4 linked regions of the Homo sapiens genome follow. The protein of the gene in region 3 interacts with the protein of the main gene of each other region in a biochemical or structural test. Each region holds a gene or a part of one and is shown on either strand. Other genes may lie near its edges.

What was found.
Region 1: the proteins of ELF3 (region 3) and MED23 form a complex in vitro, tested with the Homo sapiens proteins (4 studies listed by BioGRID, with this or other methods).
Region 2: the proteins of ELF3 (region 3) and SOX9 form a complex in vitro, tested with the Homo sapiens proteins (one study listed by BioGRID).
Region 4: the proteins of ELF3 (region 3) and NFKB1 form a complex in vitro, tested with the Homo sapiens proteins (one study listed by BioGRID).

Annotation. Positions count from the first base shown.
Region 1 is NC_000006.12:131,586,228-131,590,268, forward strand, and holds the end of MED23 (mediator of RNA polymerase II transcription subunit 23), read right to left. Parts: intron 3,370-4,041; coding exon 3,238-3,369; intron 1,620-3,237; coding exon 1,452-1,619; 3' UTR 711-1,451; coding exon of another isoform or gene 693-710; 3' UTR 505-692; downstream 1-504. UniProt on the Homo sapiens protein: Required for transcriptional activation subsequent to the assembly of the pre-initiation complex. Component of the Mediator complex, a coactivator involved in the regulated transcription of nearly all RNA polymerase II-dependent genes.
Region 2 is NC_000017.11:72,116,589-72,124,027, reverse strand, and holds the start of SOX9 (transcription factor SOX-9), read right to left. Parts: upstream 3,009-7,439; 5' UTR 2,637-3,008; coding exon 2,206-2,636; intron 1,310-2,205; coding exon 1,056-1,309; intron 486-1,055; coding exon 1-485. UniProt on the Homo sapiens protein: Transcription factor that plays a key role in chondrocytes differentiation and skeletal development.
Region 3 is NC_000001.11:202,005,648-202,013,615, reverse strand, and holds the start of ELF3 (ETS-related transcription factor Elf-3), read right to left. Parts: upstream 3,030-7,968; 5' UTR 2,910-3,029; exon of another isoform or gene 2,796-2,909; intron 2,488-2,795; 5' UTR 2,480-2,487; coding exon 2,317-2,479; intron 1,660-2,316; coding exon 1,438-1,659; intron 1,273-1,437; coding exon 1,180-1,272; intron 977-1,179; coding exon 857-976; intron 766-856; coding exon of another isoform or gene 716-765; exon of another isoform or gene 670-715; coding exon 580-669; intron 435-579; coding exon 318-434; intron 1-317. Other genes in the region: RNPEP (aminopeptidase B), read right to left, coding at 7,900-7,968. UniProt on the Homo sapiens protein: Transcriptional activator that binds and transactivates ETS sequences containing the consensus nucleotide core sequence GGA[AT]. Acts synergistically with POU2F3 to transactivate the SPRR2A promoter and with RUNX1 to transactivate the ANGPT1 promoter.
Region 4 is NC_000004.12:102,595,344-102,602,373, reverse strand, and holds part of NFKB1 (nuclear factor NF-kappa-B p105 subunit), read right to left. Parts: intron 6,237-7,030; coding exon 6,042-6,236; intron 4,855-6,041; coding exon 4,713-4,854; exon of another isoform or gene 2,639-4,712; intron 1,480-2,638; coding exon 1,365-1,479; intron 730-1,364; exon of another isoform or gene 343-729; intron 1-342.

The sequences.
Region 1 (4,041 bases), on a different chromosome or scaffold from region 3:
ACTAATACTAAAAATACAAAAAATTAGCCAGGCGTGGTGGCAGGCGCCTGTAGTCCCAGCTACAAGGGAGGCTGAGGCAGGAGAATGGCGTGAACCCGGGAGGTGGAGCTTGTAGTGAGCCCAGAGTATGCCACTGCACTCCAGCCTGGGTGACAGTACGAGACTCCGTCTCAAAAAAAAAAAAAAAGAAAAGAGTAAGTCTGCAAAAATTACTTTTACCATTATATAAATTTTTAGCTGGACTTGCATGGCCAGTAATGATTTAGTGATGGCAATTACATGAGCTACAAAGAAAATAAAGTTCTAGGAGGAATGTATTTAGAAATATGAATTTGAAATACAGTTGGTTAAATTCACTAGTTCTTTTTAAAAGAATCTGTAACTCTTAATTCCTAGGCCAATGTCAGTCACCAACTGTAGTGTAGGAACCACAGAGTACCCCATTTCCAACTGACCCCAGCCAGCACACCACCTGGCACACAGCCGACACTCATTCCAATGGAGTCGGGAAACAATCACACGGTTTATTCATTCAGCAGACTTTACTCATTAGTTTTCAAGTCTTTCGCAATGCCAATTCCCCCAAAATTAACAATGTCTCTCAAAATCCAAGAAATAAAATGTGTACTGTATTTACAAATATAAAATTTAAAAATTTTAAGATTATAAAAATTGAAGAATTACATCATCTGTCAGGTGAGAGTGTCAACCTGCAAAAGCAATTAACTTATTTTTAAAAAAAGAAATTGGAGAATCAACCATTTAAGCATGATTTTAAGTTCAAGAATTTTCAGATGTTATTTTCTTACATGGCTTCCAACTAATTTTATACAGTAAGTTCAAGTCCATAGCAAAGGTAATAAAACTGCCAGTTGACCTTGATAGAAACTATGGAAATTTATAATAAAATTTCAAGTCATTTTAAAAAGAATATGAAGCCTTGTTTGCTCCTACAATGCAACAAAATCTAGATTCCTTTTCTTGATATAAATCTCTATTATTCTGAAAATCTACCAAGAGATTTATGTATAAAATATTTGTAATAACTGTTTTACATGTGTGGTGCCTTTAAAATAATATATCTGAAGACTAAATATGTCATTAATAATAAAAAATACAAACAAAAACAACGGCTAGAATAGGAAAGACTGAAAGTGCCAATGACAAGTCATTTGATCACAGATACCTCTATGTTCCTACATAGCTCTAATAAGTTGTTATGAATATGAACAACATGTATCTTACTTGATCTCTTAGAGACAAAAATATAGATAGGGAGATGGGAGTTATAAGGTGTCAACAGATTCATCATTTGAATCAAAATAAAACAATCTGAATATCATCACTGCTTCTACTATATCACTACAGTGTGATCGCATTCAGATTTAAAAGGTTTGAGTCCACTCTCAAAGACGGATATATTTCTACTTTCTCCACAGTACAGTCTGGCTTCACTGAGTTACTGGTAAAGACACGGGCACCTGATTAGACTGAGGTGCTGGAGACCCACTGTTCATGGCTTGTGGAGGCACTGCAGCTGGCTCCATCTTGCTAATGTGTGTGATGAATCGAAGACGAAGTTTTAAAGCTGGTTTTAAGTTACAGATAATCTTCTCTACCTAAGAAATAAAAACACATTAAAACGTACTTTAATCAGAGAATTTCAACTTCTCACATTTAAAGCAGGATTTACACATATCCGGAGACAATAAACTAAGGAGTGTCGTGGGGTAGATGAGAAGTTTCTTAACATGTTCTGTGTTTTAAGAAAAGCAGATACAATGATTTCTTTCTTGCATGAGAAACAATACGTTCTCCCTCACACACACCCCTTATATATTATATGTGCATGTCTGTACATGTACCATATGTATATTCATATATATGCATATACTTACAAAGGCGTATCCACTCATCTAGCTAGCCAGTCATCCCACTACCAAAAGCTAGCAGAGTTTACACTGGAAATTTTATACATCCAACAAGTTGATCATTCTTTTAAAATGCCATCTTTACAGAAGCATGAAGCATAATTATAAAGTTCTTTGAATAACTCATGTTTGCAACATTTATCTATAAAACTATTTTGGTTTTGATTTACACTTGGAATTAACTAAATAATATTAGATCTACTCTTTTGAAAAACACTAAGGAGACAAACACATCAAGTCGTTTCACAGCTTTCTTAGCTTTACTCAAATGCTCTTTGACCTTTTCCTTTCTGTACTCCCTTGTGTTAAAGTTTCTTAGGCCTAAATGTAAAGAATACTTTTTTTAAAAAAACAAACAAATAAACAATTTCTTTTACAGTTTCTCTGCATGTTCTGTGTTGTAACAAAAGCAGATACAATTTCTCTCTTTCTTACATGAGAGAGAACAGGTCAACTCTCTTTGACACTGCTGCTGAGACATAAAGGAGTCAACCTCCTTGGCATCTCAACCTAAAGTACTGGGAGGGGTAGGAGGATGGACTTAACTTTCCCTATCTGTCCTACCTCCACTCCTTTAAAATGGCCCAGATTCTGTTTCCTACACGTAGGAAACTCAGTTATGATTCAAGGTCTTTTTCTACTTTCAGACATCCCCATTAGGAAGTTCCTCTTCATATGCTAAGTCAGGGTGGCCTCCCTTTAACTTTACCAGAATTCATACACCCTCTAAAGTGACACAGAACGAATCTAATACCTATTCCAAATGAAAACCCTCCAAAATGCTGAGGTCATAAATAATTCCCTAGGACTTTTTTCTTCAGGATAAGCATTCCCATATTCTCTAAATGCTTTTCATGAGTTAGTCTCTAGTCAGGATTAGTCTAGAATCCTGACTTTAGTCTTCTAGTTATGCCGCGGTTTGTCTACTGTCACCATGAGTGTCAGGAGAAGCAGGACCTCCTTTACTCATAACACAACAACCTCTCTGCTCATATTTCAGCAGCCATATCCCACTGTTTCTCCCTAATGAGATTACTATTAATTAACCCTCTAGGTCTTTTTCAGATTTTCTGTTGCAAATATCAAGGGGGAAAAGTACAAGAAATTATAACATGTATTTCCTTTAATACTACATCTAGAATAATATGCCTCTGATGCCTAAAAAGGTCTCATACCCACCCTTTTTCCTTAAAAGAAAAAATTAGACAAAATAAAAATAATCACCCAAACCAAAAAAGTCTATTACTATATGTTCAAGTTTTCTAAATTAAACATCATTAAAAATAATTAAACAAATTCAACTTACTTGCTCTTTCACGCTGTCACCAGTAAACATATACTTCATGTGATAGAGGAAGTCACAGATGGGATCCATGTAATTTAAATGGGTGCTACACTGGTCAACATTCAGCAGCATGTCATAAAACGCCACACCAATCTATTTAACAAATAATGTAAAATTATTTAAGTGATCAAGTGATTCAGTAATTCAGCATGATGCAGCTGGGCTCCATTACAACACTAGCACCGGGGGATACTGTCTTTGCTGTAGAACTGTCATATACCATATACACCTCTATGCACATGAGATATGATATGGCTTGCATTTATAAAAGAATCTATAGTGCTACAAAATGCCCCTGACAAGGCTTAAATAAAATTTCTCTTCATAGTTAAGTAATTTCTCTTAAAATCAAGAGATAAACAATCCCCTTTCTAGACACCATCTCTCGATGTCTGGGATAACTCCACTCCTAGGGATCCTTTGGATTATACTTTCTTAGTTCCATTTGGTAGCTCTTGCTTTAAGGTTCTACTCCTGGGTCCTTTCCTTGTTTGCGACATTTTGTTAGAAGTGACTGACTTCATCCATTCTCATGATTTTAATTAGCTCCTCTGCACTGTAAGATCTCAAATGTACTTCTCCATCCTTAACCTCTTCTCAACCTTCATGATGGGCGTTTCCTCTGCATCTCCAATTCAATACATCCCACCCTAAATTCATTACTGGCAAACTAAGTCCTCTAAAATTGCTCTTGGATCCTGTTAAACTAGTTTCACTACTAATGGTTGTGACCTGCAGTTTCAATAACACTGGTAAAGAAACTTA
Region 2 (7,439 bases), on a different chromosome or scaffold from region 3:
GCCCGGCTCGCTGCTCAGCGTGGTCAGCGTGTGCGCCTGTGGCTGCTGCGGGGGTGCCGCCGGCTGCTGTGGGGGCGCCGCCTGCGGCTGCGGGGGCGCCTGCGGGGCCGGCGGGGCCTGTGGGGGCTGCTGCGGGGGTGGCGGCGGCGCCTGCTGCTTGGACATCCACACGTGGCCCGCGCTCGCCGGGGTGGCCGCGGTGCTGCTGATGCCGTAGCTGCCCGTGTAGGTGACCTGGCCGTGCGTGGCCGGCACCCCCGGGTGGCCGTTGGGCGGCAGGTACTGGTCAAACTCGTTGACATCGAAGGTCTCGATGTTGGAGATGACGTCGCTGCTCAGCTCGCCGATGTCCACGTCGCGGAAGTCGATAGGGGGCTGTCTGCCCCCCTCTGGCAAGGGGCGCCCCTCTCGCTTCAGGTCAGCCTTGCCCGGCTGCACGTCGGTTTTGGGGGTGGTGGGTGGGGTCGGTGGGCCCTGGGATTGCCCTGTGGACAATAAAAGAACAAGCACGAGAAAATCAACAAGGGCTGTGCAGACGCCCTAGTCTTAGGCACCCTCCGGGGACCCTCCCTCGCTGCTAAAGTGTAATAAGGGCCCGCACCCGCGCAAGAGGCGCGCTGCACCGGAGATAAGTCGCCCAATGATTAACCCGCCGGTACACACTGGACAGCCCCCTTTTATCAGGGGAGGGTCTGGGGCCCGGAGGGTCCGGAAGACCTAATTGCTACTTGTGTAAGAGCCCTGTGTGTGCTTTTGGGGTGGGGGAGCAGAGAAGAAGGGAGAGGTCTTGTAAGGCTGTTAAGGGCATTTTACCTCCCAATAAAAAAGTTAATCTCTTCGGATGCTGGGATTGAGTTGGGGTGTGTGTGTTTGTGTGTGTGTTGTTTGGATGCCTCTTAGGCTCTGGGTAGAGAGGGGAGCGGGACGGGCGCAAAGGGCAGTGTGTCCCTCCCGGGAAGCATAAAGTCCCCACGAAGAATCTCCCAGGCGGAGGGCAGGGGGTGTGCCAGGCGGGACGGAGATAGCTTGTCCGGTGGGGTCGAGGGGCGACTCACCCGAGTGCTCGCCGGGGGAGTGCACCTCGCTCATGCCGGAGGAGGAGTGTGGCGAGTCGGCCTGCAGCGCCTTGAAGATGGCGTTGGGGGAGATGTGCGTCTGCTCCGTGGCCTCCTCTGCCTCCGCCTGCCCGTTCTTCACCGACTTCCTCCGCCGCGGCTGGTACTTGTAATCCGGGTGGTCCTTCTTGTGCTGCACGCGCAGCCGCTCCGCCTCCTCCACGAAGGGCCGCTTCTCGCTCTCGTTCAGAAGTCTGCTCGGGGCGGGGCGGGGGGCACAGAGAAAAAGAGGGAGAGGGGTCAGTGAAATCCGCCAAACTGTCAGGTCGGCGGGGAGGAGGCGGCGACCCAGACCACTCGGCTTCCTCTGCACACAACTCCATCTTCCCTCCTGCCTGCAACCACAGCTCATAACTTTTCTTAAAAATAAATAAATAAATAAGTTATTGCAGTCTGACCTGAGCGGTCACTCCCCGCCCCCTCCCTCCCCTCCCCTTCTATTTCTATTTTGGAAACGCTGGAGATGAAAACGACTCCCGGTGCTGCCCCCTAAACGCCTTTGCTGCTCGACTTACCGCCCCCAACCCCAACCCCCTTTGAAAACTTTCCCCCAAATTACTTAAGCTGCAAGAAGGTCCCCAATTCTCACCCCCCACCATACACTCCCACCTATTTCCAGTAGCCTCCCTCCTCCCGCCTCCCAGTTCCTGCCAAGGGTCTCCTCCAACCTCGGTTTCTCCCTTGCCCCATCTCCGTGGACAGTGGGGCTGCACGAGAGAGTGCAGTTTTAAGAGGCCGGGTAGGAGGGAGGCAAGTTTCACTTCCCCGCCCCGATTGAGCTTCCAGGCGACTGGAGAGCAGGCTGGCAGCCCCCTCCTTCCGTCTCCCACCAGTCTTCGTCCATCCTCCAGCTACCTCCCTCACCTCTTCCACTTACCACCCCCCTCCTCCGCGTCCCCGCGAGCAGCCCAAGAACTTTGTCAAACTCTGAGCCACAGTTACACCCCATTCCCACTCCCAACCCCATCCCGCCGGCTCCCGGAACGGCAACTCCCGGGCGATGGGAGGCGGGGCGGGGCAAATCAGCCCTGACCAGCGCCCCCAGCCGCCGCGATGCCCACCCTGCCGCGCCGCCCCCGCCGGGTCCTACCTCCAGAGCTTGCCCAGCGTCTTGCTGAGCTCGGCGTTGTGCAAGTGCGGGTACTGGTCCGCGAGCTTCCTGCGCGCCGCCTGCGCCCACACCATGAAGGCGTTCATGGGCCGCTTGACGTGCGGCTTGTTCTTGCTGGAGCCGTTGACGCGCACCGGCATGGGCACCAGCGTCCAGTCGTAGCCTTTGAGCACCTGGCTGACCGCCTCGCGGATGCACACGGGGAACTTGTCCTCCTCGCTCTCCTTCTTCAGATCGGGCTCGCCCTTGGGGAACGTGTTCTCCTGGGGCCGCGTGTTCTCGGTGTCCGAGCCGGAGCCCGACGGGCAGGGCGAGCCCGCGGAGTCCTCGGACATGGTGGGGCTGGGGGCGCCGGACAGGCCCTTCTCCTGCTCGTCGGTCATCTTCATGAAGGGGTCCAGGAGATTCATACGCGGGCCCGGGGCAGGGGGCTGGTGGCCGGGAAAGGCGAGAAGCCGCGGCGGCTCGGGGACTCGAGGCGCGGGCTCCTCTCCCCTCGGCTGCCCGGATGCGGAGCAAGCGGCTCCCGGGGAAGCTGGCGCGTCGGCCGGCTACCGCGGCGAGCACTTAGGAAGGCGCGGGGTGGCCAGTTCACAGCTGCCCGCTCCAAGTGGGGGGAGGCGAATTGGAGAGGAGGAGGAGGGGAGGAAAAAGAGCAAAAGTGGGGGCGCTTGCACCCCTTCTCTTCTCCTCCTGCAAAGAAAAGTTTCCGGGGTTGAAACTGGCGAGTCTCCGCGCCACTGAAGTTTCCAGTCAGTTTCGAGCTCCGCTTTCGGCTCTCCAACTCCCAGCCCAGGGTCTCTTTAATAAATACTCCGCCTCACCTTAGAGCCACCCGCCAATCACAGCACAGCAGTCCCAGGGTTGGCAGGCAGCTGATTGGACCCGATTTTGGGGAGGGAGGAGGATTGTGGCACTGGGCTGGGTGACGAGGCGGGAGGGGAGGAGAGGGGAGGGGATCGCAGCCAAAGGGCGGACGGTAGGGTGGGGGGGCGGGGGGTGCTGCGGGGAAGGCGGGGGACCCGGGACTTCCAAGTGTGTAAGTTTGTCGTACTCTCGGAATGCCAGAATTTTAGTGCCTTCTCCGCGCGAATCTTGTGTGTGTGTGTGTGTGTGTGCGCGCAAGTGTGTGTGTCTAGACTAGGATCTACCCCCACCTCCGACATTTCTTTTCACTGCTCTCTCCGCGGCACCGGGGACTTAGCTGGAGTTTGCAGTATTCGAAAAGCAGCCGCTTCTTAATGCGTAGCCGAGTTTACGCGCCTGGAGCGAGCCTGCCTGCCTGCAAAAGTGCTTAGAAATAGTCTTTTGAAGCAAATGTTTTGGTGACTCAACGCCCGCTGTTCCTCCGTAATAATCCATATAAATAGATTAACATGCTCGGGTTCGCCGGGGCTGGTGCGGCTGGTCAGGATTCTGCTGCGCTTTTGCAAAGGGAGTCAATGGAAAGCAAAGCTAAGTCCCCGCGAAGGTTGGCAGCGGCGGCCGTGGCCACGCAGGAGCCCGGCGCTCTCGAGGCCGCCCCGCGCCACATCGACCTTGAGCTCTGACAAGTCATTCTCCAGCCCCCTCTACCCGCGACCCTGCCGACGCTCCTCAGTAACAGGGCTACTGCTCTGACGTTTTGGTCTTTGCCTCCTGGCCGGGTCAAAAACGTCAGCCGAGTCGCCCTGTCTGGGGGAGAGTTTGCTAACTGCTCTGGCTTTGAGAGATAGAAGTTTGCCAATGCGGCTGTCCCGGGCCGCGAGGCCCAGGCCGGTCACTTGGTTTGTAAAAGACCAAACAAATGGGCACCACCGCAGACAAAACGCTCCACTCTGGCGGAGTCATGCTGCTTGCCTGCTTTTGCTGGCATTTACGAAACACCTGAAGGGGTGAAGCGCCGGTGCTTCTGACTCTAGTCCGGTCGGTTCAGACCTGCATGTAGTTGGGAGTTCTGGGGGAGGCATTGGTGGTGTCTCTCATGTATTTCAAGTGTGATTTGAGCACAACCTTTGTGTTTACACGAAATGCTTAGAGCCAGGTTGGGTAAGTGCGGAGCTATCTGCTCTGGGATAGAAGAAAAGTCTTGGTCGCTTGCGGGTTCTGTGCTTTCAGAATCCCAAATAAACGCACAGCATTGGGAAACTCTTAATTTTAAACTCCCCCCCCCCCCCCACCCTTTTGGGCTCTTGCAAAAATTCGCCTCAATTAAATTATTGTTGTGGTGAATCGGCCCACATCATAATAAAAACTAGTTTTTTTTTCCCTTTCTAATTTGCGAAGTGAGGACACTATCACAAGATCCAAATCAATGTCCTTCCGGGAGAATTTCTTAAAATCTTGTTTTCTCTCGTTGTCTTCGGAAGAAGCCCGACATTTCTTATAGGAAATGGAACTCTTCATAAGGTAGTAAGTTACAGCCTTGTTCAACAGCATTTTTTTTTTAACGAATGTAACTTCTTCAAATGGGATGTTTCTGGTGCCCTATAGCTCGTTTACAAATTTAAGAGATTTGCATACAATAGCTTCGTATCCAGGGCTCTGTGATTACTTTCAGAAAGTGTAAGAACAGCATCGTCCTTTCCTAGGAGAAAAAAGTCCGCGTAGTGTGGACCTATTTCTGTGTCCCGGGTAGAAGGGCATTGTGTGTACAGTATAACTGTGTAATTCTCAGACACCTGATTCAGGAGACTCGGAGACCATCGGGCAGACATTTTAGCCAGGTCGTCTGTACTTAGTTGTATGATATTGTAATTACCATGTTTGCTGGAATAAAGTCAGTGAAGAGGGCTATGACTTTAAGATATTTTGGAATATTTCACTAAATATATGTCAAGATATATACGTATATGTATAAATATACTTTTAATGCAATTATGCAATAAGATACTAATATGTAGAGTTTTACATCATAAACGACGGGGATTTATACATTTCCCGTTGATTTGATGCAAGCATTTTTGAATTTTACATCTTCCTGAAAACTTATGAACAGGCGACTTAAAAATGGACTGCAGTTTTCATCTGTATCCAGAGGGGGCGCCAAAAGCCCAGAAACTGTTTCCAACTCCGAGAACCAGGGAAAACTTGGATGGTGGTGGCTGGGGGTGGTGTGTTCCAGTCAATCTGGACTGCTTTGCTGCTGAGATTTATATTTGCAGGAATTCCTACGCGATATTCCCTCCTGTGCGGATCCACCTCTGCGCAGCTCAGTGAGGGAACTTGTGTCTGTAGAGATCCGGGTGAAAAAAGAGCACTTGAGATGCCAGCCGTTCTATTCTGCGCAGAATTTGGGGACTGAGGCCAGGAGAAGGCCCCTATCCCCCAGGTGCCAAGCGTTGCCACCGTCAGGCCAAGTCTAGCGCGTGGCATTGTCAGCTCGCGAGTGGATCGGTCCTGCATTTCTGCAGGGGCCTCCTGGTGTCCACTCCCCTTTCCCCATTCAGGGGCTCCATTCGCTTCGTTGTGTCTTTCTCAGGTCGCCCCGACCCCTCCTCCCTGACCTGGGAAGACGCGCGCAGTCCCCGACCAGAGGACCTCAGACACAGGTAGAAGGAAAGGAACCCGCTCCTGATGTTCAGGTTACAGATCTGGAAACTAAGGCTGTTGACCCAGTGTTGGCTAGAGCATTTTGCCAGGGGCGAAAGGAGCCAGGGTCCTCCATCTGATGCGGTGAGGGAGGGAAAGGGCGCAGGTCACGAGGCAGGAGACGGAGGGCGCTTCTCCGTGTTCGGGACGTGCTTTCGGATACCCGCTCTTGAGCAAGCGCCGCGAGGTCTGCCGCCGGGAGCGGAGACACAGAGGTGCGAGTGGCTCCCCAGGGAAGCCCTCGGGAAACCGAGGTCTGGGATCTCCCCCTTTCCCCCTCTTGCACGTCCCGGACCGGCGCCGGGCTCAATTTCCCCAGCGGGGGCCGCCAATCTCTCCTCCGCGTCTACGCGGGAGCTGAGACCGGAGCCCAGAGTTGCTGGCGCAGGGCGAGTTTCTCGCAAACACTCAGTGCTCAGGATGGGGGTGAGGGATGCGAGCTGATGGGGTTCCTTTTACCTGGCGAATTAAGGACCACAACCTCCCTATCCAAACTTCCTTAGCAAAAGTGGGGACGGTGTTTAAATCCGTTTTCGGTAGGGACGCTTTTCTGTCCCTAGGGAAAGTTTGGTGGGGTGAGCAGCGGCGTCCCCCAAATATCTCAGCCCCGGACAATGTTCTCATTAGAGGTGATGGGAGAAGGGGTTACCCCTTGTCTATTCCAGTTCCCCAGGCCGGGTCCCTTGCAGGTAGAAGACTCCTATCCCTGGAGGGACAGGTCCCCGTGTCGCGGGCTCCCAGCCGCTCCTGTAATTAGTACATTTCGCTGGGCTTGGAGAGTGTTTATCGTCCGCTCTTCACGCCGGACACGAGTTTCTTGTGGAAGGGAGCGGCCGGTAAGCCCGTCTCTGGACTGGCGCTGGGCTGGACAGCAACAGCTAAGGGGAAAAGGAAAGTACCAGATAGCGTCGTAGGTGCGCAATAAATATCTGTTGACTGATCGAATAGATGTCACCTGTGGACGTGTTGCCCGAGTGAGTGCATGTCCCATCACAGCCGCCAGACCTCCCAGCGACAGTTGCGAACACGCGATGCTTGTGCATTCCTGCGTGTGTATTTCTCCCCACACGGGAGCCCGACTTTGGGAAGTTGACCGGCATGTGCCACTCAGGGCTGTGGAATCCCGACTCCGCTAAAACTGCAGACCAAGAGGCCCGTTTCAGTTTTCTTCCCTTTCCTGTTTTCGAAAAAAAGAAAGATGAGGTGGACGGGAGGTGTCGGGTGAGGGGGCGCGAACCTCCAATCTGCCCTGGTGACCTGGCCGGGTCTGGGGGCGTCGGGCGGCTGTAACACAGCAGGGCGCCCCGGGGGTACGGACCGGAGCCCAAGTCAGAGACCAGACCAGCTGGCTTGTCGTGGAGCTGCGGAGCCGATCAGGGAAAAAGGAGGGGTGGGAGTGGAAGGCCCCAGTCCCAAAGGGACAGCGCTCCCAAAGGGAGCGTGCTCTTTTTTCATTCTGGGTTTTGCGAAAATATCTGTCCTTAGCTGTGGCACCGGGGAGCCGCGCGTCATGCGGCTTCCCTCAACTCATCCCTAGAACGCCCTGCGGAAAATTTCCTAGGCCATCTCTTCCCCCTAACGCCCACTCCCACTATTTTAAAAAGTCTTTCAGGCATTTTTAGCTGAAGGTGATTTTGCCTTGG
Region 3 (7,968 bases):
TCCCAGAGGGCAGGACAGTGGCCAAGTGCAGAGAGAACTGGAGTCAGTGGACAGGACACTGGAGTCAGTGGACAGGACTCTGGTACCATGAGCCTCCCACTGGGAGCCTTATTTCCTCCTCCTCTCCAGGACCACCAAGCCAGGCTCTGCAATTAGGTGGTGACCGATACCATAGAGCCCCCAGCTTGTGCACAGCCTTACCAAAGGCCATGCGGAGGCCAGAGAAAACGGGAGAAGGGATACCTGCAACAACCCGCAGTGCCCCAGGAAGCCGCTCAGCCCGGCGCAGGGAGGACCCACGTGCCCCCGGAGCTCACCGTGCTTGCTCTTCTTGCCCTCGAGACAGTCCCAGTACTCTTTGCTCAGCTTTCGGGGCCGGCCTCGTTTCCGCTTCCCGTGCTTGGGATCCCCCTTCTTGCAGTCACGAAAACCATCTGTGGGGACGGTGGTGGAAGGTCAAGGAGGGGCAAGAGGGGAGTTAGGGAGAGTAGCCCCTCTACAGGAAAAGGCTGCAGGAAGAGCCGGGCCCCCTGTGCATTGCTAAATGGGACGCCCTCTTGGGGACCTCCCTCGACTCACCGCTGGGGAAGAGCTTGCCATCAGTGGGATCCAGGTCCACGTCACTTCCACCGGAGTCTGAGGAGTGGGAGCTCCGAGAAGCACCAGTCCCTGGGGGGCGGGGTCAGAGTAAGTCCCCTGCCGGCCCACCCTCTGCTCAACCACGCTGCTGGCTCTCAGGACACACTTCCCAGCCTGTTCCTGTTCCTGCCAGAAGGCCTGAGTTATGGTGCTGGGAGCCAGAGGGAACAAGGGACACTTCGGGGAAGGGAGGTTGTGGCCCAGAGAGAGCTCTCACCTGCGGTGGAGACGTCAGAGCTGCCAGGGGAGGGGGCTCCTGCGCCACAGCTGCCGGGGTGGTAGGGGCTGGCTTGCTGACCGTCGTCCAGCAGCTCCTGGGCAAAGGGGCTGCCCTGGTCTGGGAAGAGGAGGTGAGAACTCAGAGAGGGCTCAGGGGACCAGACCAGGACAGGTGATGCTGCCCATGGGTCTGATGACCTGCTGCAATTTTTCTAATTGAGGGAGGAAGAAGTCTGGGGAGGGGGTCATCTCTAGCACTCTGTGGAGGGGCAGGGATGGGACAAGACAGGCTGGGGAAGGAAGGAGAAAACGGGTTCTCACCAAAGGGCCCTGGGTCTAGGGCCTCCTGGAAGGCCATGCCATCCTTCTCCAGCAGCTCAATGATCCAACTGAGCTCATCAGAAGAGCTGGAAGCTGACAAGGAAGGAAGGAAGGGTCACACTCCCCTAATCCCTCCCTCAAGGGCTCTCTCTGGCTGTGCAGCTGGCCCAGAGCTCCAGGGCCTGCCTACGGCCACACTGAACTCGACTCAGCTCAACATGTGGAGCTGCTCCCCAGCCTCCAGGGGCCTGGACTCACTGAGGTCTCGCAGCTGGGCATGGAGTTGGTCCCCCAGAGGCCCAAAGACCAGACGCAGCTCCTCAAGGGCACAATTGCAGAGGGTGGCGCCATCCATGTCACATCGTGAGAAGTCAATGGCGCTTGCGTCGTACTTGTTCTTCTCCACTTGGTAGCTGATCCAGTCCAGAACCTGCGTCTTCGACCAGAACTGGGGCTGTTCCCCCAACCAGCTGGCCTTCTCTGCAAGGGCCAGGCAGGGAAACAGGCTCAGCTCAGGCCACCCAGCAGACCTTACAGCCCCATTTTTTTTTTTTTTTTTGAGATGGAGTCTCACTCCTGTCACCTAGGCTGGGGTGCAATGGCACAATCTCGGCTCACAGCAACCTCCACCTCCCAGGTTCAAGCGATACTCCTGCGTCAGCCTCCCCAGTAGCTGGGATTATAGGTGCCCACCACCACGCTGGGATAAATTTTTTTTTGTATTTTTAGTAGAGACGGGGTTTCACCATGTTGGCTAGGCTGGTCTCGAACTCTTGACCTCAGGTGATCCGCTCAGCTCAGCCTCCCAAAGTGCTGGGATTACAGGCGTGAGCCACCACTCCCAGCCCACACAGCCCCATTCCTGGAGCACACTGGGGATTCACACCTCAGCCCTTGGAGCCATCCCAAGAGTAGGGGCAGGAGGTAGCATTCACAACACCCTTGTCCTGGTATCTGACACCTCCCTCTGCCTGTCACAGCCCCACAACCCCCAGCACCTCAGTCACTAAGTCTCAGCCTCTAGCCCTGGAATTTGCCTAGAGACCCTCCTCCCTGCCTATTCCCCCATTTGTCTAACAGGCCCTTAGATGGATCTGTCTCCCACTCCGTGCCCCATCCCACCCCGCTGAGACCCACCTGTACCCTCCAATGACATCTGGGGGTTGCTCAGGGTCAGTACCAAGTCATCGGCCCCAAAGGTGGCAGCAGGGGGAACAGAGGCCAGGGTGGAGTCCTCCGAGCTGTACATCGCACTGAAGTAGTTGCTAAAAATGTTGCTAATCTCACAGGTTGCAGCCATGAGGCTACCTGTGGGTAGGGGGAGAGAGGATGAGGTTGGTGAGGGGACGAGGGTCCTCTCCTTACACTCCCAGCTACTCTGCTTTGCCCAACCCTGGGCAAGAGTAGCCCCCAGGGGCAGGAAGATCAGCAACTCTGCGGACACCGTCTCTTCAAGAAGGGCTCCAAGATCTCAGACCAGGGCAGGACCACAGGAGCCTCCAGCTGGGCTTCCCTCCTCAGATCTCTGGGGCCCTGGAGCCAGACTAGCGGCGTCATGGCCATTCTGCCTTCCCAGAGACAATCTCTCTCTGTTCTTTGACCCTCAGGACACCTACGCTCTTGCTCGGAGATCCTAGACTGGAGTGTGCAGGTTCAGAACTGCAAATCCTCTGGACCCCTCTGCAGTTTCCCAAGAGCTGGGCTAGGGAATGACAGGCGGGGAATCCTACCGGAGTGGCGGAGTCCGGCTGTGGCAGGCAGGCCGGCAGGCGGGAGAGAAATCCAGTTCCGCCAGGTAGCGCTGAGGTATCTGGCCGCTGCGCTCCCCTACCCGGCTCTAAATAGAGCCTGGAGGGAGCTCCTCCCTGAGCTCAGGGCTTTATAGTGTGTCCCCTGCAGTAACCTGAGCTGGTGTCTCATTGGATGGAGGGGATTTCCTGGCCTTTAGACTGGGCTCCTGGCCCCAGGTGATTTGCATATTCAGTGCCACTTGGCCCGGATCTTAGCAGGCAGTGCTGGGAAATCAGGCCCGGCTGGTTTAATGATTGTCAGAGTCTGTCATCCCGCACCCTCTGGGGTTGGGCACGGGGCACTGGCCTGGGCAGGTGGCGGGAACGTTGCTGGGGTGGGCATCTGTGCTTTCGGCTGCCCTCTGGCCCAGGAAATTCCTCCCAGGGGCCAGGCCAGAGATGGGCCAGGCAGGGGGAGGGCAAGTGAGGGAACATGAACCCCTGGCTGACCTGAGTCAGAAAGCTGCTGGCCCCTAAATTCCAGAGATTCAGCAACAAAGAGGCCTAGTAGGGAGAGGAGTTACTAGGTTTAGGGGTTTTTCCCAGAACACCCAGGACTCTGGCCAGGGGCTGGAAGGTGCTCCAGGCTCAATGCTGGGCAATACTCATGGATTAATTGGTGCTGGCTGGGCCTGCCAGCCTAGTCGTGGCCCCAGGGTCCCCACTAAAGGGCTCCTTCTCCAGCGCCCACTCTGTTGGCAAGGTCTTCACTACCATCACCTGCCTGGACTCCATCCAAGCATCAGGGTTGCTGCAGTCGCTCCTGAAGAGACCCGGCTCTGCTTGAAAGTTCTTCCCTCAGCGCCTGCTGGAGCCCTCCCTGCCGGAGTTGCCAGAATCCACACGGGTAAGTTCATCCCTGCTCTCTGGACCCCATCTAATCTCTGGTTCACTCGGCCCAGTTTTCCAGTACCTTCTGCTGCCCTCTAGTGGTCAGAAGCCTGACTACCTGGGTCACGTCATTCAAAGAAGAGGGAATGCATAGTATTAATATATTTACCAAGCACTTTTCAACATATTCTCTCATTTAATCCTCACACCAAAAAAGTCCTGTAAGGAATGCATGGTTATTCCCATTTTATAGACATGAAAGTTGCAGTGTGGAGGGTTCCCTTAGAATGGCTTGCCCAGGCCACACAGAGTTGGTGAAGGGGTGGAGCTGAGATTCACATCCAGGTATGCAGGTGTGTTGTACACAAAACCCTCGCTCTTTCCCTGCACAGGATTCAATGTCTTCGGGCTTCAGAGTCTTCCCATCCAGCTCCATGGCCAGAGCCCTTGCCTTCCCTGTGGGCAGAGTCCCCCATGTCTGTGGTTGTCTCTATGGACTCAGCCCGAAACACAATGGATAGTGTCTTATAGACCCTTCTTGAGACCCTGAATGGGGTAATACAGGTGGTTGAGGCAGGAGACTTGTAGCCAGCATCTGCAACTGTGTGATCTTGGATGAGACCCTTGGAGTCTGTGCTTGTTTCCCCATCTATAAAAAATGAGGTTGTCTGAATTTAATAATCCCTAAGATCTCTTCCAGATCTAGTATTTTGTTTATTTTGTTTTGAGGTGGAGTCTCGCTCTGTCGCCCAGGTTGGAGTGCAGTGGCGTGATCTCTGCTCACTGCAACCTCTGACTCCTGGGTTCAAGCGATTCTCCTGCCTCAGCTTTCCGAGTAGCTGGGATTACAGGCGCCCGCTGCCATGCCCGGCTTTCTGTATTTTTAGTAGAGACGGGGTTTCACCATGTTAGCCAGGATGGACTCGATCTCCTGACCTCATGATCTGCCTGCCTCAGCCTCCCAAAGTGCTGGGATTACAGGCATGAGCTACTGCGCCCAGCCCATATCTAGATTTTTATGCATTTGAAATGTAGGATCCGGTGGCTCACACCTGTAATCACTGCGTCTCAAAAAAAAAAAAACAAAAACAAAAAAATGTAGGATCTGTGTGACCCCCCTCCATTAATGCACAACTTGGGGAGTTCCTGGCCACCCTCAGCCAGGGTGGGTGAAACGGTTACTCAAACAAAAGGTGACTCCACCTTCTACAGATACTTCTTTCTTTAACTCTATAGCCTGAGGACTAAGAAAGTCCTGCGCAGAGAATCTGCTTCTTACCTTACCTTCTTCCTCTCTGAAGCTCCCAGGTGCCTAGGAGAGAGTTAATGTCCAGGATCCCCCCGCCCCCCCGCCCCCGCACTGGGCCAGTGCAGGCAGGAGAGCCTGGGGCTCAGTAGGATTTTCCCCAGCCCTTCAGGGGGCCTCCCCCAAGGAGCCTGAGGCAGGCACACCCTCCACCCAGTCCCTCACCCAGGAATGTGGGAGAACCGGCTTCTAGCCCCAGGGCTGCTCACGTGCTCCCTGCCCTGAAGAGCATCTGGCTGGGGCTCCCGGGATGGCGGGGTGAACAGGAGGATGTACGAGAAAAATGAGAAGGCTGTCAGCTCCCTTGCCTTCTTGGGGCTTCCTCACCGCTGACATGGAGCTGAGATAAGGAATCCCTACAGGCTGGCAGCTTGAGATAAGTGAGAAAGACTTGGATTTGAGGTCAGTGCCTTGGAGGCATGGGGATGGGGGTGGGGAGAAGGTTCCAGGATAGTGGTGAAGAGAGCTATGGAGCAGGATGCCAGGGGCTTCCCAGTATTCTGTGATGGCAAAAACAACCCACTGGCCTCCCCTCTCCCCACAGAGCTTGCCCACACGGCAGCACAGCCTCATCTTTGGGATGGGAGAATGTCCTACAAAAGGACAGGCACATCCAGTAGTCCTGTCAGGTACCAAGGTGGTGAGTGAGGCAGGCTGCACAGCTCAGGATACCCACGCTATGTAATGGGAGACCCCACAAAGTTAGTGGAGTCACAGCACGGCTGTTAGAGGAAGGGCTTCCAGCCTTTCCTTGCACTGACCCTTCATGATTACTGGGCCTATTGGTGCTATAGGTTTTTGTACAGAGCAAGGAAAGATAGCTACTGATAAGCTAGATAAAAGGTTGGGGAGAGGGGGAGACAACTGGATAGCCCTAAAATAGTCCTTGCCAATAACATATTGCCAGGAACAGTCCTGAAAGAGCCACGGAAGCAGTTTGCTGTCAAAATGCCAGTGCCTGGAGAAGCTCTTCCGATACCGGGCCTCCAGATCCCTCACCTATGACCCACATCACCCTCTCTGATGGTGGAGCTGTGTGCCACGGGGCAGAGGCCTCTCCAGTCTACCACTTGGTCACCACTAGTCCCTTGCTCTTGCTGAGTGAAAGCAAATCGACTCATTCCCAACCCTTGTGCAGGGGAGGGAGGAAGCCTGTTCGATAACCTAAATCCGAGGACAGAGCAGAGCTGCGAACAAAGCCTGTTTCAGGGGTGCCCTGTATTTAAGAAAGGCAAATGAAACACACTAAATATTTCTTCCAACCCTCCCCTCATCCCACTCCCAAACCCAGATTGCTAACTGTTTAGGTCCCCATGTTGAGGCCAGGAAATCAGAATTTAGTGCTAAGTTCTAAAGACTTTACTGATTACCATTCAAATAGTTATCTAGGATCAAAGACAGGTGAGGCCCAGTGAAGCCTTGGGCATGGGCAGAAGGGTAGATAAAAAGTCATAAGACACTTTATTTTTATTTTTGAGACAGGGTCTCACTCTGTCACTCAGGCTGGAGTTCAGTGGCACAATCAAGACTCACTGTGGCCTTGACCTCTTGGGCTCAAGTGATCCTCCTGCCTCAGCCTCCTGAGTAGCTGAAACCACAGGAATGCACCACCACGCCCAGCTTTTTTTTTTTTTTTTTGAGAAGTCTTACTCTGTCACCCAGGCTGGAGTGCAGTGGCATGATCTCAGTTTACTGCAACCTCCACCTCCCAGGTTCAAGTGTTTCTCCTGCTTCAGCCTCCCAAGTAACTGGAACTACAGGTGTGAGCCACCATGCCTGGCTAATTTTTGCATCTATCTTTTTTTTCAGTAGAGATGGGGTTTCACCATGTTGGCCATGCTGGTCTCAAACTTCTGACCTCAAGTGATTTGCCTGCCTCAGCCTCCCAAAGTGTTGAGATTACAGGCGTGAGCCACCACGCCTGGCTTTTTTTTTTTTTTTTTTTTTTTTTTGGTAGAGATGAAGTCCTGCTATGTTGGCCAGGGTGGTCTCAAACTCCTGGGCTCAAGCGATCCTCTCGCCTCAGCCTCCCAAAGTGCTGGGATTACAGGCATGAGCCACCGTGCCCAGCCCATTTTTTTTTCTTAGTGATGGAAAAGATAATGGGAATGCTGCTGCAGATAGAGAATTCAGCTGCTTCACGGAGAACTGGAATGCTATTCCTTTTTCATTTTCCTGCACCAGCTGTGCCATTTTGCCATATTTTTTTTCATATGCATGTGTAGGACACCCACCTCCTTCACCCTGGCTGTTCCCTGAGGACAGGAAAATACTGTCATTCTCTGGGCCTCCCCCAGTGACCTTTCCTGAACAAACACAGTGAGGACCTCTGGTGGAAGAAATTTAATAGTCACTCAATCCGTAACTTAATTTTTGCTTGAAAACTTTATTAAAATAAGGATTAAACCTGAAAAAAGAACAATCAGAATGCCAGCCCTTTGCATAAAATCAGCAAGAAAAAGGACAGAAAGAGAAAAAAGAAGAGCATCAGTCCTCTCCACTTCTTCCCAGAGACTTAGGTGGGGAGGAGAATACCCGCTGCCCTGCAGTGCCTGCAGCCTGTAGCGGGGAGAGCTGTGGGCAGGTTCTCTGTCTCGGGGCTCAGTGGGCTATAGAGAAGTAAGTTCCCACCAGAGCAGAGGCCCAAGAGTCACAGATACCTAAGCTAGAGAATAGATTATCCTGAGGGGATATAAACTCCAGGAAGTTGATCAGGGAACAGGAATTTGGGAACAAACAATTATTCTGAAAGCCTGGAGAGCCTGAAGAGGCAGGGGCCATGCACACGAGCCTCTAACTGCCCTTGGGTGCCACGATCTGCTGGACATAGTTGACAACATTGCTGTGGAGCTGGGAGGCGGT
Region 4 (7,030 bases), on a different chromosome or scaffold from region 3:
TATTTCTAGTAGAGACGGGGTTTCACCATGTTAGCCAGGATGATCTCGATCTCCTGATCTCATGATCCGCCTGCCTCGGCCTCCCAAAGTGCTGGGATTATAGGTGTGAGCCACCGCACCCAGCCTAAAGCACATTTTAAAGAATGGAAATAAAAATAAGAAAATAGATATTTTAATTTCCTTTAAAGAAAATGAAGTTTTAATTAATTTTCTTTAAAATAATAAAAGCATTTTCCTTTAAAGTGAGGAAATAGAAATGATTCACATCACTGCTATAAAAACTGAGAGAGCAGGAACAAATATCTTTACTAAGTAAATAATTACACAGGATTTTGGCCATAGTTTTGGAGTGAGAGATACACGTGAACCAGCAAACCATCTCTCCAAGGAGGATGAGGAAGATGCTTCGGGTCGATGAAGGGAAGGAGACAAATGGAAAGGTAAGAAGTGGGCAAGGGCAGGAGCCCCATACAGCAGACTGGTGGGAGTAGGGGAAAGACAGTGAGGTGGGAAAAGCAATCAGGGGCAGGAAGGAGGAAACCTCAGGAGCCGAACCCCATCTTGGTTTCATGCCAGTGCAGTCGCTCAGCCAGAAAGGCTGGCTGGGGTCACTGGGCTCCCATCACCAACGTCCAAGCTCTGCTTCTGCCGAAGTGGCTCCCAGGCTCCTTGCCTCTCCCTGAATTCTGCATATGCCCATCAAAGGGCCTCGCTGTGTCTCCAGCTAACTCTCCCTTTGCAGTGTTGGAAGACCTCTGGAAAAAACAGTTCCTCAACTTGTATTTTCAGCCCACCTAATTAATTCCTAAGAAAACCTGATTTGGGCAAAACTCTGGTGTTCCCACTTTTCCTCACTTGGAGCTGTCTTTCTGCTTTTGAAAGACACCTTTTCCTCCTCAAGCAAACTTTTAACCTTTCTGTGTGGTGATTTCAGAATGCTTCATTTGATATACATTTAATCTGGATGTTGTCAAGGTATGTTTCAGTAGACTTCAAAATTATTATAAATTACTGGCTTTTCAAACTTTTTTTAACTTTATTTTTCTTGACAGATGTGACATTTTTACTTTAGTTTCTCCCTCTTAAATGAAAAAACTGTTTGATTTCTAAAGTTTAAAGTTTGCCTTCCCCCAGCGGGATGCTGAATTTCATTGTGGCTTGATGGCTGTTATACCCACAGATCAAAGGATCCTACATCATAAAGTAACATTCTCAACTAATGGGATTTTAGATATTACCTACAAAGGTTTGTTTTTGTTTTTGCTACTGTTAACATTACTAAAAATAACATGCACCCAAACATAACAGAAGAAAAAGTAAACTACAGATTTTTCTTCAGTTGTTTTCTTGAGATTTCTGCTTACCTGGTACAGATCATTTCTCATGTTGATAATGTCATCAGAAATCAAACCAGATGTGACTTCTAGTAGATCCCTCACAAGTTGAGAATGAAGGTGGATGATTGCTAAGTGTAAGACACTGGAATGAAAACACAGTGGCAATAATTAACTAAAATGTTAATGAAAAAGAAAAGATTCCCAAGATGTGATTAGACTCAAGAATGGAATCTGCTCTCATACCTAGTTTTATTTGGCCCTAAAATGTTTTGAATCTATAAAATGCATTGAATCTGAGGTGGGATGCTGTCTCCAGAGGACTGGTCCCTCCCAACTGCCTACCCAAGGCTGCTACGTTATTTGTGGTACCTTCCTGGCCTCTGGGAGCATTCAGGTCTTGACCCCTTGATGTATAAACACACTGAGGCTTCCAGCCCAGAAAGACCTAAGCTTAAATCCCAATCCTGCCTCTATACCATGGCTTTGGGCGGTTTTCTTCTCTACCTTTCCCCCTGACTTTTCCTGACACACAGATTCTATGTAAAATGAATGCCTGGCACTAGGAATTGTTCAGAAAAACTTAGTTACCTCACTTAGCCCTGCTGCCCTCCTCCAAAATACAGTGTGGTGGTTTTTTAAAGATCTTTCCAGATCCCAAGAGTGGAGAATGGAGTGAAGCTTTTAACTACTGGAAGAAAATTCTTGCAGTAAACTTGTGAAGAAACAAAGTGATTGTATTTCCCACCACTCCTGCAAACATTCCAGCAAATATTCCCTCTGCCTGGAATGTTTTTGCTCCTTTCTTCTGCCTGAACAATGCCTACTCCATCCTTTATATTCCAGTTCAAACCTGACATCCTCAGAGAATACTTTCCTAACCTCCTAGGTGGAGCAAGTTGTCCCTCTCAAATTTACTGCTTGGTTATGCAACTGCAGTTTTCTACACATTTTTCTCGTTCTCTGTCCTGTCATCTCTGGGGCAGGTTCTGTCTGAGTCAGCCTTACAACCCTAGCATGCAGTAGAGGCACAAAAATAAGAATGATAGAAGGAACTTAAGAGCTTACGCTAATGAGGCTGAACATACTGGTGGTGTCAAAGTCACTCACAGGAGCGTAATTCTTTTAATTATTAAAAAACATACTATTAAAATTCAAAACAATAACAATAACAATCATTTTACCAGTGGCTACTATTTGTTGGGAGCTTTGATTTACCAGACTATGCTAAGCATTTGATATATATTGTCTTTTTACTATAACAATAATCCTATGAGTTAGGTAATATTATCTTCACTTTTCAGCTAATGAAACTGAGACTTGCAGGCGTCATATAACTCAGTCAAGGCCAATACGTGGTGAAGCTGGGATTCAAGCCCAGGCCTGTCTTACTCCAAAGCCATCTCTTAATCCCTTAAGCAATCCTGCATAGGGGATACATGTGCACTGTTCTAAAGACATTCAGATGAATGTCTAAGAAGATGACCACTCCAGAGCATGGACAGATTGAGGTGCAGAGCACACTAAAGCATCTCGCAGCAGCACTACATCTGGGACACGAGGTACAGGCTGGATCTTCTCTAAAATAAGCTATCAGGTGCCACTTTACTCAAGCCTCTTCCTTAGCAATAGCAAGTATATCGTACTTGGGATTAACTCCGGCACAGAAGAGCCTAAAAAACTAAATTGTGATTTTGCTACTTGAGAAATATTTTAAAACGGATGATCTCAGGGTTTCACTATTGCTTCTTGAAATGTGATACTGGAAGAAGACTTCTGAAAAGGGCCTAAACTCTGACATAGACATGATGCACATACACCAAGAAAAAGGTCATACTTCTAAAACTGCTCGAAAATTTCCATGTGCCGCTCAGCATTTCATAGCAGAAGTACATTCCCCCTCCCCCTCAAATCCTCACACCCTTATGGGAATTTCCCCAATAGCAGAAGTTTTATATATTTTTCTTTATTATATTTTCTATGATGACTAATGGCCACAGGATTTAAACTATTAGCCAAATATGACGAGCTGAATTAAAACAAGAGACTTGGGCTGTGATGGCCAAAAGCTGCCCTATACCTATGCTCTTATGAGGATCCTCTGGTCTCTCCAAGTCCCAAATCTGTGGCCTCTCTGAGAGCCGGCTTGTGTGAGTGTGCTTGGGTCTTAGGAGGGAACTTGCATGTGCCTCGCCTTGTATCCCTTCCAACAATCCTCCCTTCAGATATCAGCACTTCCTTTCTAACCTGTATGTGCTCATCTTCTTAGACTTATCAATTTAACAGGTCCCTGGAAATGCCACTTGAAACACTGCTGTACTGTCTTGGTTAACTGCTTTTTCTTGTGGTTGTATGCTACTGAATGCTAACTGGATTATTTAACCCTGAAAAAGAATTCTGCTGTTCATGGCTTTATACCAAGAAGGTTGTACTGGTTCCTCTCATACTGTATAACAAGGCCAGTGGTTATACCACATCCTTGGTTACGTTGCAAGGAATGAGAACAAAGGTGTCTCTGCTTGAAACCCTGAGGTTGTTACTTTCCTAAAGTGCTTGGTTTAATTTTTAAACTGAAGTCTAAAACACAGCACTCAAGAGCTCTTCCACAGAAAAGGATTTCTCTATGTTGATGCTATTTTAGGAAGGTTTTAGATAAGGCACTTGACTTGAATGTGAAGGCTGCTGTCTCTTGTTATTTTTATAGGCTTTTGAGATCATTTTAGAAGTCTCAATGAAAGGACTAAGAGAACTGTTTTAGAAAGAAGCCAGGTGGCTTTGCAAATACAATCTCAGTAATAGCAAGAATGGAAGGCATGGTGTTTGGAATGTTCCACTCCCACATATGGGCTGGAGCAGTCACAAAAGTCTGAAACAGTCATAGACTGATGACCATCAGAAGAGGGAGCAGAGAAGAAACCAGTAACTGGGAAATAATGACCAGTCCCTCTTAATCTTTCTGTTGTTGTTGCTGCCTTTATTGGGCTTTTTCTTGAGTACACTGTCATAAATATGCAGCTGGGATAACAATGCTTCAGGGATTTGGTAGGACTCTTAACAATTCTCCAAATATTACTTCAATAAACAAAGCAAGGCTTTTCAAAAAGTACCATTACCTACACACATCTTAGTTTTCTTGCCCAGAGAGATTCACTCTTAGATGAGTCCTCCAGCTACTACAGATTCCAACAGATGACAGCAGCAGGATGGAGCAGCAAATTGTGCTACTTAACCTTATTCACACATTATTTTTCTTCATCATTCCAGTTAGAGGACTCAATATATTTGAACAATTATTTTTATCTCTAGTCAGTATGCATTATACGATGCTCTTCTTCTTCCCCACCCAGGACAACCTATCATGCAAAAGTTCTGACTTACCTGTCCCCATTCTCATCCTGCACAGCAGTGAGATGGCGCTGGACGGCCAGCAGCATCTTCACGTCTCCTGTCACCGCGTAGTCGAAAAGGGCATTGGCATGCCTCTTTGCAAGCTGCATAGCCTTCTCTAGAAAGAGGTTATCTGTAAGGCAATGACCACAATCATAGTTGAGTGTTCCTACTTTTGTTTTATGGGTATGGCATGCTTAAGGACAAACTGACCAGCATCAGTGTTCTGACACCTTGACATATCATTTTAGTTGAAAATGTTCTTTCAATGCTTTTGGATTGTGTGGACTAGAAAAAGCAGAATTGGACACTGGGTCACTGACAAATATAGTTAGAGATTGATCTTAAAGAATCTGTGTATGATTTGTTAGAGGAAAAAAGTTTAGAAATGTATTATTTTAAGGGAACGACCATTATCTGTTATTTTAAGGAAAACAATCTCCAAACAATGTTAGATTTTACCATGATTTTAAATCACCAATATCTTGGTGAAATAATCCTTCATTGGAATCTCTAACAATTAGCTTGTTAGGCAATGTGTGAAAAAACACACATCTCTGCCATAAACAGAGACGTTCAATGAGCCACTCACGTTTTTGTAAAGTTTGTTCCATTAAGGTCAGGGAATGGCATTTGTGACCTTTGGGCCAAAACCTGTTTATGGCCTGCTTTTCATATAGCTCCCTAGCTAATCATGGCTTATACATTTTTAAAGGGGTGTAAAAAAAAAGCATATGTGATAGACACCACATGTGGCCACCAACTCTAAATATTTACTACCTTTGCTTTTATAGACGTCTTCTTAGTACGATCTAGGATGACCTAGAATCATGACACATATGCTAATAAGTATTGGTTCACAGTAAACGCAAAAGTACATTTTCTCCTAATCCTACTTCTTCAAAGAGGGCACAAGATAAAAAGAAAAGTTCCTATTTTAAGGCAAAGTTCTATTTCAGTATGACGGTTAAGCCAGAATCTAGACAGGGTGACTATTAAGCTTGTGGAAATACTTCTCTATTTATCTGTGCCAGAAAAGAAGTTGATTATCTCTCACAATACCCTAAAACTGCATGATTATGACTGGAGAATGTACATATAAATTTCTGTCCTTTACATTCAAAGATAACAGAGCAAAAATGGAAATCCCAGTGTGAATAAAATGATCTGACATATGCTTTTCCAAAGGCATACAGAACTTTGAAGAGTACACTAAACTAGATATTGATATATCATCTTTAGATTAGCAGATATCTTTCTGCACCTAGGACTGACCCCTCCCCAGCCAACCAACAGAACGTAATTTGTGTGCTCACTTACCCTGAACTCCAGCACTCTCTTCTTTTGTTCCTGTTGCATACGTTAGAGTGACCTCACCATTCCCAACGGTGGCCTCGCTGGGCTCCTGATCTTGCTCTGTGGTTTCAATAACTTTCCCAAAGAGGTTTACAGTGTTTTTGTCATCACTTTTGTCACAACCTTCAGGGTCCTTTTTAGATTCAGTGTCCATGGTTCCTAAGATAAATGCAAAAACATCAGATTTTTCTCAGTAAAATGTATTTAGTGATAATTCGCTATTCCAATGTAGGTCAGATAAAGGTAAGAGACAAGTTTGCTGCAAAAGGAAAAGAAAAATAATAATTTAAAATTCTTTTAAAAATGGTCATATCATAAATACCATGTTTTGGAGATATTCTAAACTCATTTCTAAAAATCATTTTTAGTATACTTCTAAAATCTTAAATCTCATTTTGCTTATTTGTAAAGGAGAAAAATGAAATAAAGCTCTTCTATGAATTGCAGGAAAGCTGAATTTTTAAAGTTCTTGAAAACAGAGCAGTTTTTTCCTAATGCTAATGAACAAAGCAAATCATAAAGACGTGTTGTCGACTCACATTCTTTAGTGTGGGAGTTATCCAGTGTACCATTCCTGATCACCCTCTTTCAGGTTCAACTATGTTATCTGACAGATACTATGAGAGCATCTAGCTTTTCTGCAGGAGACCTGCTTCAAATTCTTGTTCTGCCACTAACTTCTGTGTGCCTTCAGTGAGTACGAACATTTCTGAACTTTGATGCCTTTTGTGTGCAAAATGGAGTTACTATTTTCCATATAGAGCAGTCATGAAGATAACAGTTAAAACATGTAAAAGCACTTGGCACAAAAATAGGTATTCAATAAATGGGAAGACTTCTTTATAGTATTATTTCTTCCATGGGTACACTAGAATGGACCTGTAATATAAACTATCAACATGTGGTTTAACTGCAGCTTCTCAGGGGATGACTTGATGGGAAAAGACCGATCC